2 separate regions of the Homo sapiens genome follow, and region 2 is linked to region 1. A link means that fine-mapping ties the variant in region 1 to the expression of a gene that starts in the linked region. Tissue or cell type: whole blood. Region 1 holds a variant in brackets; the other region holds the start of a gene. All regions are shown on one strand. Distances are from middle to middle.

Evidence for each region. PIP is the estimated chance that this variant, and not a neighbour inherited with it, causes the effect.
Region 2: GZMA starts here. The variant in region 1 is fine-mapped to the expression of GZMA in whole blood (INTERVAL, PIP 0.92).

What each region holds. Positions count from the first base shown.
Region 1 is chr5:55,429,233-55,431,732 of GRCh38, forward strand. The region is part of intron 4 of PLPP1 (phospholipid phosphatase 1); the gene reads right to left. Among named protein-coding and RNA genes, the nearest start is that of MIR5687, 78 kb to the right of the region's middle. The variant T/C (reference allele first, on the strand shown) is at 1,429.
Region 2 is chr5:55,101,131-55,103,630 of GRCh38, forward strand. It overlaps GZMA (granzyme A), which reads left to right and starts at 1,516. Exons shown (of 5, transcript NM_006144.4): 1 at 1,516-1,622. The coding sequence starts at 1,553.

The DNA of each region.
Region 1 (2,500 bases):
AAACAATGGAGTGGTTTCAAGATGGCTGACTAAAGTGCCCCTGGTACTTGCTTTCTGCTTGAAGAACCACCAAAACAGTAGTAGATAAATCACACTTTGAATAGATCACCTAAGAGAGAATGCTGGAATTTACCACCAAAATGACAGGAAACACCTGAGGCAAGTAAGGAGAGGGAAGCAAGGCAGGGTACCTGGCAGGGATTGGTTGGGGAGGCTCCCCCATGCTGGAGAAGGGTAAGTGACCCCCAACAGTCAGCATCCGCATTCCCATTGTGAAGTCCTGCAATCCCAGCCATGGAAGAAACCCTCAACCCACACAAACAGGGAACTTGGGGACTGCATGATGGCACTGCTCCAGAGAGGGAGCTCATCCCCCCGAGTCCTAAGCAGCTACAGCAGGGCACCATTTTGAGAGCCCCACCCCCAGCAGACTGCATCATTCCCTGAGGCCCAACAGCCCCTGCATATCCACATCTCTGAAGCCCCATTAAAGTCCCCCACCCACAGCTGGGTGCTGCCGCAGGGCCAAAGTATACAAGCTACTGGCAGTGAGCCAGCAGAGCCACTGTGCATTGTCAAGCCTGATTACAGGCTACCCTGTCCTGCAGATACCATCTGGGGCCAAAGTGCATGCTCCCAACCCACCTGTTTATGACTGCTGCCACACAAAAACACCCCTACCTACCACAGCCAAGCCCTATACACACCACTGAGGGACCTATCCAGCCCGGCTCCACCTACCCCTATGCCCAAGCACACCATCGGGCGTTGGAGGGTGCACCTATCATTAACACCTGAGCACTCCTCCCAGGGGCCTCAGGAAGGGACCATCCAACCTGCTGCTACCACCACCCACATGCACCACCTATGGGCCTGGGGACTAGCCACCCAGCCCATCACGGTCACCACCACCACCAGCGCAAACCACTTGGGAATCAGAGGGTTGTCCTGCCACTGCCCGCACCACACCTGCTGTCTATGGGCAGCAAGCCCGAGGACCTTCCCACCGTGCTACTGCTGGCATCCAAGCAAGCTTCCTGGAGACCCAAGAATCAGCCCACCTGGACCCTCTAACATCAGTGCCAGCATACACTGCCCCAGGGCCCAAGGACAGGCATGCTCAGCCTGCTGCTGCCACTCCTGGGGCTCGAGGATGGGCCCACCTAATGTTCCCATCTCCAGCAAATGCTTCATTGCAGCAATTAAAAACTGCAACTTAAGCCACTGAGGAAATCACACACAACTGATAACTTTACAGCCAAAGAAATCATACTGAGACTACACTATTGCATGCATCTGGAATCAAAGCCAAAGTGATCTACCCGACCAACACCACAGATATATCTTAAGGAAAATATCCTCCCCTATGAAGGCAAATTCAAAAAATTGGAAGAAGTGACTGTTAAACCAGATGTACAGATACCGAAA[T/C]ACGGATTCAAGAAACATGAAGAAGGAAATATGACACTTCCAAAGGAACACAGTAATTTTGTAGCAACAGATTCCAATGAAGAAATGTGTGAAATCTCAGAAAAAGAATTCAAAATAATGATTCAAAAAAAATTGAAAAAGCTCAGTGAGATACAAGAAAACAGCAATCAGAAAAATAATACAAAGAAATCAGAGAAACCATTTAGGATATGAATGAGAAAATTCCCAAAGACATAGATATAAAAAAAAATTCTGAAATTGATGAATTCATTGAATGAAATATAAAATAGATCCAACAGTTTCAACAATAGACTGCATCAAGCAGAACTTCAGAACTTCAAAAATTAGGTCTTTTGAACCCAGACAAAAATAAGAAAGAATGAGCAACAGCTCTGTGACATATGTGACACCATAAAGTCATCAAATATTCAAATTTTTGGTGTCTCAGAAAACAAAAATAAAAGGGATAGAAAACCTATTTGATTAAGTAATACCCGAAAACTTCCCAAGTCTAGCAAGAGATTTAGACACCCAGGCACAGGAAGCTTAGAAAACCCCAAATAGATGCAATTCAAAAATCCATGGCATATTACAGTCAAACTGTCAAAAGTCAGAGAATAAAACAGCAAGAGAAAAGTATCAAGTCACTTAGAAGGGGAACACCTATCAGACTAACAGTGAATTTCTCAGCAGCCACCTTACAGGCTAGGAGAAAATGGGATGATGTATTGAATGTGCTGAAAGAAAAATAAACCCCACCAGCCAAACTATTCTCAGATCGTGATGGAATAAAACTGGAAATGAATAATGAGGAACTTGGGAAATTGTACAAATGCATGAAAATTAAACAACATGCTCCTGAATGACCACTGGGTCAGGGAATAAATTAAAGGAATAAAAAAATTTCTTGAAACAAATGAAAATAGAGGCAGGACATACCGAAACCCAACAACAATGCTAGGAGGTAAATTAATACCAATAAACGCCCACATCAAAAATCTAGAAAGATTTCAAGTAAATAATCTAACAATGCAACTCAAGATAGTAGAAAAACAAGAACAAACCTAAAATT
Region 2 (2,500 bases), 330 kb before region 1:
CCAATGACTTTCTTCACAGAATTGGAAAAAACTACTTTAAAGTTCATATGGAACCAAACAAGAGCCCACATTGCCAAGACAATCCTAAGCCAAAAGAACAAAGCTGGAAGCATCATGCTACCTGACTTCAAACTATACTACAAGGCTACAGTAACCAAAACAGCATGGTACTGGTAATGGCTGCACAACTATGCAAATATACTAAAATCCATTGACTCATACACTCTAAATGGGTGACCTTTATGGTGTGTGAATTATGTCTCATAAAGTTGTTAGAAGTCAACATAAATGGAAGAGCAACCATTCACATAAAAATAAACAAAATTGTCAATGTTTTAAGAATTTTTCAGTAGGTGTAGTTAATTACAATTTGACTTTTTTAAGTCTGCACTAAAATTACTCACCAAAACCAATAGCAGGGTCCTCACTGCTGTTACTGAAAATGATTAACCTTTGATACACTTGTAATATCTGAGAAAAAGAAATGCAGGGGTCTCAGCAGGGCTCCCTTCTAAGGTCACTTGATTTCTAAAGAAGTAACCACTAGGTTTGAAGTCATCAGGATGTTAACTATGGGGATGGTTGGTTCAGTACCCAACATCCTGACAGCACATCTGACCATGTATATTGTATCGGAGACCACATCCTCAGCTCAGAAAAAGAGCTGAACTCATTTCAAATAGAAAGCACACTGCATACTGTTCCTCCAGGGACTGAGGTTGACTCTTCTTAGAGTGAGACATTCCCCAACATTGGAACAAAAATGACTCCCACTTCTTTTCTCACCTAAACCTGTTCAGAAGAAAGTAAGGAAGAAAGGCAGGAAGCAGGGGTCGGGGGGGGGCGGGGAGGGAGGGAAACTCGGAGATACTTTCAGTATCTAAAGTTGTGAAACTAGACAATCAGGAACGCACAATCAGAGGGCTGAAAAGGGCCAAGAGCCCCTACCCTCCTCCAGCCCATGTTCCCACACCTGCCACAGACCAGGCAGGAGCACAATAAACACTCACCACAAAGTGGGGAAGGAAAATCCAGGCAGGAGCCTCTATGTAAATAAATCTCCCTCCTGTCCTCAGCTTGCACTTGGCCTGCTAATTCTTATATAACCCAAGGAGACAGCTAGAAAGAATTTTGATTGGTGACCAATTTTGAGGACTTTTATTAAAATTCTAATTTAAGTCTTCGAGAGTTTCCAGTCATGGATACTACAGATAATATTGCAGATGATGAAAGCGTCTTCAAAATCATAGCTGAGACACTTTACAGTCTTCCCTGGTGTACTCTGATGGCAACAAGGTCCCTTGCCCCTCTCCTACCCTGTAGAATTCCAGCGCCCCCCTCAGCAGTCCTAGCAAAGGAAAGCCTGCCTGCTGGCAGTGAGCCATCATCCACCATTCTCACTTATTTGGATTTGGTTTCCTAATGCTAAACTTTGAAACTTGAAAAAAAAAATGAAAGGAAACCACATCCTTTTTACTCTCAGTATATAGATAGAGGCAGTTAAGAACTGAAAACAGATTTTCAGGTTGATTGATGTGGGACAGCAGCCACAATGAGGAACTCCTATAGATTTCTGGCATCCTCTCTCTCAGTTGTCGTTTCTCTCCTGCTAATTCCTGAAGGTAAGACTGATTCTTCTCATTTCCATTATGACCATGAAGCAAAATGGAGCAGACTTTCAATGAACTTTTGGCAATATTACCTTCCTATACTGAAAGAAGATGTTTTCCCCCAAGCCTTATAATGTTTAGCCAGGCACAATGGCACATGCCTGTAGTCCCAGCTACTAGGAACGCTGAGGTGGAAGGATCACTTGAGCGCAGGAGTTTGAGTCCAGGCTGGGCGACATAGTGAGACCCTGTCTCTATTTTTTTTTTTTAAATAGCATTCTTTCTTGGATTTTAAATATGTCTGTATTTTAGAAAAAAAAATCTTTTCTTCTCATAATTATTTTGCAAAAGATAGCAGAACCACCAATGCTTATTGCTGCCAATTTGTAACTTGAAAATTGCCAAAAAGGACAATGTAAAAATGAGTTAACAAAACTCTCTTGTTCGTAAAACAAATAGTACCTTCCAGGAAAGGAATAGTGGCAACTTAGTCAGCTCAGCCTTTCCTGCTGCAGAAAATGCATAGATAAAGACAATTAAGACAAATCTGACCTAGACACCAAAAGTGAATCAGGAATTATTAGAATTTTTATACTTATTTCTCTGGTCTAGAGACTCTTTGGCAATAAATTAAGGCGTGAGGCCAGTTCCCTCATTAACCCTTTGGGTGTGCTATAGTATTTTTTATTAAGCTAATTTTTTGTCTACCAAATGGTAACCAATATTTCTGCTTTTGTGTGAGTTGAGCATGCATGGGTTAAAATGCTGTATAATTCATGGTATTACCACTGAAAGGGTGACAGCTCTTGGGGAGCTCTAGATTTCCCTTGAAGAACCTGCTAGGAAGTGAGGACTACTCTCAAGCTGTGGCAATATGGAGCCAGCCACGG